Regions from separate parts of the Homo sapiens genome. Here regions 2 and 3 are each linked to region 1. The links come from fine-mapping of genetic effects on gene expression. A gene starts in region 1. Each other region holds a variant in brackets. All regions are shown on one strand. Distances are from middle to middle.

Evidence for each region.
Region 2: its variant is fine-mapped to the expression of LRATD2 in whole blood (TOPMed, PIP 0.92).
Region 3: its variant is fine-mapped to the expression of LRATD2 in whole blood (TOPMed, PIP above 0.99).

Annotation. Positions count from the first base shown.
Region 1 is chr8:126,557,096-126,559,861 of GRCh38, forward strand. It overlaps LRATD2 (LRAT domain containing 2), which reads right to left and starts at 1,383. Exons shown (of 2, transcript NM_174911.5): 1 at 939-1,383; 2 at 1-390. The coding sequence starts at 294. LOC105375751 (a long non-coding RNA gene) reads left to right here and starts at 781. Exons shown (of 6, transcript NR_188069.1): 1 at 781-836. RefSeq lists an enhancer at 785-1,621 and a silencer at 1,336-1,515.
Region 2 is chr8:126,500,970-126,503,735 of GRCh38, forward strand. No RefSeq gene overlaps it. Among named protein-coding and RNA genes, the nearest start is that of LRATD2, 56 kb to the right of the region's middle. The variant G/A (reference allele first, on the strand shown) is at 1,204.
Region 3 is chr8:126,382,577-126,385,342 of GRCh38, forward strand. No RefSeq gene overlaps it. Among named protein-coding and RNA genes, the nearest start is that of LRATD2, 170 kb to the right of the region's middle. The variant G/C (reference allele first, on the strand shown) is at 1,274.

The DNA.
Region 1 (2,766 bases):
CGCGAAGCTCTTCTGGTAGATGCATTCGTCCCGGTAGAACACGGAGCATTCCACCTCGTGCAGCCGCGGATCGTAGGGCTGCGGCTGGGGCGGCGGCGGCCCGTCCCCACCGTCGGGCAAGCCGCCGCCATCTGGCCCCTGAGGCGGCGGCTGCGGCTCCACGTCCTCATCGTCATTGGAGAAAATGTAGGAGACCCCAATGCGGGGCCCGTCGTCCCGGTCCACGCCAGTCGGGTCGGCCGTGGGAACTTCCTTGTAACTTAGGTGGGTCAATTTCTCCACCTGGTTGCCCATCACGCTGCGGACACACGTTCACACCGCCGCAAGGGGAGAAAGCGAAACCAACTCCAGGGTCATTTGCACAGGTCCCCGGACAGGGGCTGAGGCTACCTGTTGGGAGAGGAAGGCAAGAAAGCCATGCAGGAGCCCCTCCGTGAAAAGGGCGTTTTGTTCCGAAAAAGAATCGGTGGGGGCTCAGCACCTGGAGCCATTTTAGGGGGAAGTCTCGGGTGTAGCGAGCTTTCCCTCGTTTCTCCACCTGTAAGGTCACGGTCACAGGAGACTGGGCAACTCCTGTTCTCCCTGTCCCCAGCCCTTCGCCTGGCCCTGGCAAAAGCCCATTGCATCAGCAGCTTCTACTGCTTCCGCCTGCGCCCTACCTGCCAAGCTTGGGCAGGAAGAGGGAAGGAAAGAGAAACTTTACGCCAATCCCCCCCCTCCTCTGCTAACTTCCCCTCCCACCCTCGGGCCCTAACTAGCCCCGGGGACGCCTCCTCCCCACCAACGCATCCATCCCCAGAGGAACAAGCGAGGATCTCAGAGCGCGACCTGGACAGGTGAGTCACCCTACCTGGCTCACCTGCAGCGCTACCTCCTCCCGGCTCGCCCGCCCTTCCCCCGCGCCCGCCCTCAGGCTCGGGTTACCTGCACAAACTCACCCGCGGAGAGGTGAAGGCCGTGGGGCCTGGGGAAGGGCTCCCTGCCGCGCCCCGAGACTTCTAGGGCGAGTTTGAAGGTGTAGGCTCGGCAGTCCCTCCTCTCCCGGCGCGGGCGGCAGCGAGGCTGGGCAGAGGGCAGCGCAGCGGGCAGACTAGGGGCATGTCTTTCCCCCGCGGCTGCGTAGCGCCCCGATACTTGAAGGCGGGGGGCAATCCCTGTTCACACCGCGCTTCCTCCCGCCAGCTGGGGCTGCTGCCCCTCCTCAGCCAGCTCTCGGGGGAGGTGGGGCGCGAGGAGGAGAGGACGGCAGCCTCGCAGCCTGGCGGCAACAGCTCCCGCTTGGGCCGGGCGAGCAACAAGCACCGGAGCTGGAGGGACGGGATTGTAGATCCGGCTCCGGGCTCCCGGGCGGGAGCGCAGCCCGTGGCATTTAAAGAGACAGGCGCTCACTCCCCGAGCTCGGGTCTTTTTCACATTGCGCCGAGCGGCCGGGAGCCCCGCCCCCGCCCCGCCCACTCGGGCCTCGGGACTCCGCCCGGCCACGCCCCCGCGCCGGAGCGGGTTTAAATCCCCCTGTAAATAATCCACCCGCCGCCTGGGGCTGGTGCTGTGAGCTCTGCTTGCCTTCCGAGACAAGTTAGAAGGCAAACACAACTTGCCAGTGTGGAAATGAGAAAGGGAAGGAGAGTTTGGTGTTTGCGCCTTTTCCCTTTGACCTGTTTTTTCCCAGAGTACCTGGAGAAGGAGGAACAGTCGTTTCTTTTCTTTCCTGGAACATATTTCTTGCCCTAAAGGTCACAAGAAAGGATTCTTCACCAGGACAGCTCGAAGAGTGCGTCATCCTAGAGGTGTTTTCAGAGTTAGTAGTGGGAAACTTTGGGGTAGAAAAGAAAATCGCAGAAAAGAAACAGTATAAAACAGAACGAAGACTTATTCACTGACTGGGTCCCAAGACCACCGCTCTGTTTATTAGATACCCCTGGAAGTTAGTACAAAGTTCATAACCTCCGTTATTTCCAGAGAGGTACCAGTTCGTTGGATAGTGAGAGAAGCGTGCAGCTCTGACTGCTTTTTTTTGGGGGGGTGGGGGGTTAGGGGATGTAGGAATTGCCTAATTCCTACATCCTAATTCTAATTGTCCTTAAATTAGAAACAAATTAGCAGAGGCCCTAGTGGATATATTTCCTTCCTGTTGACTTAGGGAAGTGACAGGAGACCAGTAATGCCTACTAACCTCCACCACAAAAGGACACTTCCACCTCTCCACTGGTTTCGTTTCTTTTACCTAAATGTAGGCTACCAAAGTGTTTTTTTTGTTGTTGTTGTTGTTTATTTTTTTAAAATAATGGGTCCGGTGAGGGTGGAGGATTAACAGCTCTGTTTACAATAAACAAGTTTAGGCACTACTGCAAGCACCCAGACTTATTCGTAGGGGACTTAAGAATGCGATTCAAGACCTATATTCTGTCTTCAGTTGCTTTCTTTTGACTAATTTTTTCCAGCATGTATAACCAGCCAGTGGAAACAGGAATATACTAGCACTACTGTGATCCTTTCTAGTTTAGGAGAAAAAAATAAAAATCATTCTACTTATGTAATTTTGAGTCCAAACAATCAATATTGGCAGGGCTGTGATAGAAATTAGTCCTTCAGCAAGTCTGAAGTATAAGTTAGATCAACATGAGACTACTGTGTGCTGTGCGATTCTGTTTCAATAATTTCAGACTGGCTGGCCTCAGGCGCATGTGACTGAATGAATCCAACACACCCCAGTCCTTTTGATAGCAAATGGTGTGGGGGGCTGCTGTTACCTGAGTGATATTTGTT
Region 2 (2,766 bases), 56 kb before region 1:
ATTTTCCTAAAAACAAAAACCTCTACTATAACAACCAGCAAATAATTAGACGTTAATGTCTCTAACTTAAAAAAAAAAAAAAAAGTAACCACAGTTAATCTCAGGGGATATCCTGTATGAAAAGGGAAAAAACAATGAGTCATGGATTCTAACCTCCTGTTTATAACCGGGGCCCACAAATGATCTGTTGCTGAAGGAGAAGAAAGCCATTAATCTCCCAACTCAGGGAGCAATTTTATATTTTGAATAAAAACAAAATAAACAGCATTAAGGAGGGAAATAAATCAGATATGCAGTAATTAGTTTGAAGGAGCCGGATTTTCCTGCCTAACACTCTCTTTGGAACTTCTGCCTTATCCATCAAAGCAAAAGTGTATCAGATGACATGGAGATTTTCCATTCCCTTTTCAGACAAAATTAGTCAGCTGATGTGAATAGTAATTTGACAGGACCCAGAAGAGAGAGCATGAGTGATGGGATTATAATAAATGCGGGAGAGGATGCTTAATAAACTTTGGTGAAGCCCTGGATCCTGCACTTTTCCTCTCCTACCCTCTGTGTAACTCCTGATTTATGAAATTGTTACTTTTTTCTCTGTGAATTCTTAGAAGGCTTGGACTTTTTAAAAATAAAGAATCTAAAAAGGACCTTATTTATTTTCTTACCCAGTATCCTTATTTTAAAGATTTAGAAGGCTCAGCCCAGAAACAATAATTGACTTGCTTAAGTTTCCACAACAAAATCAGCTGAAGCACCAGGATCAAAAACCTGGCCACGTGCCTCCCCGCCCTCAAAGCTCAATAAAGACAAAAGCACAAACAATTGTGAAGTGGTTCCTTACTGAAGGCAATCTTGGGTCTCATGCAGCACTTTCTGGGTAAGAGCCCCCTTGATATTGTTTGGCTTTGTGTCCCCACCCAAATCTCATCTTGAATTGTAATCCCCACGTGTCAAGGGAGAGACCTGGACTGGATCATGGGGGTGGTTTCCCCTATGCTATTCTCATGACAGTGAGTGAGTTCTCATGAGATCTGATGGGTTTATAAGGGGCTCTTACCCCTTCACTCACCTCTCTCTCTCACCTGCTGCCATGTAAGTCGTACCTCTTCCCCTTTGCCATGATTGTAAGTTTCCTGAGGCCTCCCCAGCCATGGGAAACTGTGAGTCAATTAAACCCCTTTCCTTTATAAATTACCTAGTCTC[G/A]GGTGGGTCTTTATGGCAGTGTGAAAACAGACTAATATACCCTTTGGTGTGAAACCACAGAGGAAGGCTGCTCTTCCCTCTTCAGGCTTCCTTCCTCGGGCATTTCCCTCCAATCAGGCACTCTCTCCAGAGTCCTCTATCACTCATTTGCAGCTTATTCTGAATTCTAATGACTAAGTTTTTTTCTCCCCATTATTTGGGAATGTCCTGCTAGCAGTTGTTTTTTTCAGGAACAGTTTGGTAACTGATTCATTTGAAGCATAGACATAATGAATCTCTCCCGATGTATCTATAAACCCTTGCATAACTCCCTTTACTATTATGAATGGAGCTCTGCGAGTAAGTTGTCCCTTTCCCTTTCATCTCCCACCATCCCAGCTACCCTGTTTGGGTCTACACATCTAAAGTTTAATAACCCTCCAGTGGAAAGAACAGGGAGATGTCAAAAGATGAAGGATGCTCATCAATGCATTTGTTTCTAATAAAAATACAATAATTCAAAAGCAGAATATAAATGTCCATCAGTAATGAACAGCTAAGTAAATAATGATTCATTATTCATACAACAAAAATCTATGTAGCTATTAAAAAATATAGAGAAGAATATGTATTAACATAAGAAGATGTTCAGGGTACATTGTCAACATGTGTTAATATGAAGATGTTATCAAATAGCAATTATTAAATGATTTAACTTTTTACAAAAAAAGGCAACAGGTTTTTATTGAAAATATGACATGATAGTCCCAAATATGTGATATAAATATGACTTTTTATTACATTTCATAATATAGTAAACATATTCATTTTGTAAGAAAAACAACACAATGTTGTTGTTTTTATTATTTTTAACAAAATATCCAAGCAGTCACTCTGCTTAATTAGAGAAGCAATGAAAGAAATTATGGCCAAGTGTTCTCTCTGACTGTAAATATTCAGAGGGGGCCTGGGTTGCCCCATACTTGAGTCACCACTCTACTTTCTTTATTTTACCTCTTGGTTTTGTTTGTTTTTATTTATGAAGTTTCATTTGAACAGAAGTTTCTAAGGGCAGGTGTGTATGTGTGCTTTGTTCTGGTTTCTTTTTTAGTGAGTAGAATGGGTTCTTATCTGTGAATATTCTCTCATTATGGACAACAGTAGGAATGTGAACAATTATTGAGAGTCTCTAATGTATCAGATGTCGTCCTAGGGCTGTCTCCAAATGTTATCCTGTTTATTTGTCATCACTGCTCTGAGAAGCAGGTGTGACTTCTGATCATTTTAAAGCATAGGCACAGAGGCTTGCAAAGATGCAGGGACCTGCCCCAGCTCATGCAGGTGGACAATGGTGGGCTGAGAGCAGTGAGAACCAGTCCCATCTCCTCCTACCCACTGCAAGCAGGCTACCAGTTTGGCTGGGGGTTGTTGGTTGAAGTGTATCCCCCCAACACCTGCAACCAAATTCATATATTGAAGCCCTAACTGTGCCCCACCTAGTATCTCAGAATGTAACCTTAATATAACCTTATGTGGAGATAGGGTCTTTACAGAGGTAATCAAGCAAAAATGGTTAATGGGTGG
Region 3 (2,766 bases), 170 kb before region 1:
TAGAGAGCCATGACCTCTCCTGTAGTCACCCTGCATCTAGAAAGGAGAGAAATTTCTCCACGCCAAAGCTAGCAATTAGCACAAAGCACTCAAGGAATCCATTCCATTCTCTCACATAATTTGGCATTTTCTGCCTTCTCAGTCAAGTACAGCTAATGCAGCCGTCTTCCCTAAGGGGAATATATATATACTGGACCGAACTCCGGTTTTAACCTAAAGATGACGTAAGCACCTCATAAGGGCATTTTCCATCCACAATGGGGCAGTTTGCCTGCCTTATTATACAGACGTGAAATGCTCATCGAAGGTTCCCAGGAGCCCACGGGGAATTGAAAGTAAAAACAACTTTGCTGTTCAGAGACTCTGGAGACTTTTCCTCATTTGGAGTGTGTGTGGAGATGAATGCTAAGCACGAATCTGTGCTTACAGGGTGTGAAGCAAATTGGAATCTTGACCACAAGAAATGAAGGTGGCTAATCTAATTTGAAGACTGTGTGCAGGCAAATGAGTGCATGCGATCTTCCTGGAACCCACGTCCTACCGTTAGCAAAACCCAAGAGAGAGAGGAATATAGATTTATCTTCAGGCCATGATGGGTCCCCGAGAAACGCTGAGCACTTACTTCCAGCTCTAAAATGATGTGACTCTGTGGGTCTGTGACCCTGTGACCCTTAAAAATTACTTGATGAAAATAAAAATACACCCTGACAGGTTCACAAATAATGGTAATGGAAGTCACCCAAGCTACCGATTCTTGAGCAACTACCATATGCCAGGAAATATTAATCAGGCCAGTTCTCTACTTCTCTCTGTTTCTCTTTCTCTCTCGGTTCAGGCTGTCTCTATATAGGTAGGTATAGATATAGTAGATATAATTTGACACAAAGGATTCATGAAGTTAGCATTGTCACCATTCTTAGATGAGGTCATTGAAGTCGAAAGAGGTTAAACAACTTGACCTTGATAACCAACTGAAAAATGGAAGAGGCAGCATTTAAACTCTGAGCAATCTGAATCCGAAATTGTTTCCATTGCTTCACCCTTTATGGGTATGTATTGAATATAGGTATACTTGTAGAAACATAAAGTGACAAACCTTCAAGTAAAATTTGGGGTAAAGTCTCCTTCTAGCTGTCCTAGTGGTTTAATCGGTGTGGTCTTTAGTTAATGGTTGCTGGATATATTCACAAAATAAGAGGAAACTAGAGGCAGATTCCTATGAAGATTACTATGACAGGACAGCATCTACCCCAGAGTATGAGGTGAGAAGCTT[G/C]GCAGGGTGCTTCCTCCTGGCGGCAATTTAGGGTACTGCTACTTGAAGTGTGGTCCATGGCCCAGTGACATTGGCATCTGGTGGGAACTTGCGAGCATTTCAGGCTGTGCTTGAGGACTGCTGAATCAGAATCTGCCTTTTAATAAGGTCCTGAAAAAGAAAAGAATCACTTGCCAGAGTGATTCTTGTTTACATTAACAGTTTGAGAAATTCTGATTTAGGGTATGAAAGTAGGAATAATATGGATCGTTTATAAAACCTGGGAGATATTTATGAGCACCCATAAATCTAAGTTTCTGGAGTACTGTGATTTACATTAGTTTCCTTTGCTTTTAAAGGGAACATGGCATATAAGAATAAAACAACATTTATTAAACACTAACTCTGTCTCAGGTTCTATACTTGGCAATTTACATTTATTATTTTATTTAATTCTTATAACAACTCTATAAGGTAGCCAATCATTATTACACTCATTTTGTAGAGGAGGAACTGTTTATGGAGATCAATGAACATGCTTAAAGTCACTTTGCTGGTAAGCGGTGAGTCAGGGATTCAAATCCAGGCAGTGTGACGCTAGGGTTTACACTTTGTGTTGATCAGTGAACTATACTGCCTCTTCAGTCCATGCAGAGAAAACATCGGGAGAGTTCAATGGAGTATTGTGCTTCAACAAAGTTAGCTAGAGCTGCAGACTTCAATCACAACCGCCCTATACACAGGTGTATCTCCCAGTGGTTATCAAGTCTGCAGAAGCTAATTTACTACTCATTAAAATATAATGTTTGTGAATTAACTGAGAAGTAAATTATTCACAGTGATCAAGCAATGTCGATCATAATGAGACAAATAGACATCATTTGCTCCTGTTATGATACACTGACACATATACATCATCCGAAATTTATTCTTGCCAAAAAAAAAAAAAAAAGCATTTAACTTGGATCAGATCAGTCAAGACTGGCAAACTCAAATCGAAGAGCAGTCTCCAAAACAATTTTCCTGTACTCATCATCGACATCAGTTTTGTGAAAGGAAAAATAAAAAGGCAGGAAAACTGTTGTAGATTAAAGGAGGTTAAACAGACATGCCAACCCGATTCACTTTGTAACTTTTTATTGAATCCTAAATGATGTGTCCAATGGTAGAAACAACTACACAAATCATTATAAGGACAATTGCGGATATCTGAAATATGGACTGTCTATATATAAAATTATAGAATTGTGTTGCTGTTCAAATGTGACCATCTTATTTTGATTGTGTAGAAGAACGTTTTTGTTCTCAGGAGATGCATACTGAAGGGTTTAGAGTTGAAGGGTCATTTATAGGTGCATCTTCCTCTTAAATGTTTCAGAAAACAGGTAAGAACCAGATAAATTAGGACTAGGCACACTTGGCTCATGCCTGTAATCCCAGAACTTTGGGAAGCTGAGGCAGGATGATCACTTGAGGGCAAGAGTTTAAGACCAGCCTGGGTAACACAATGAGAC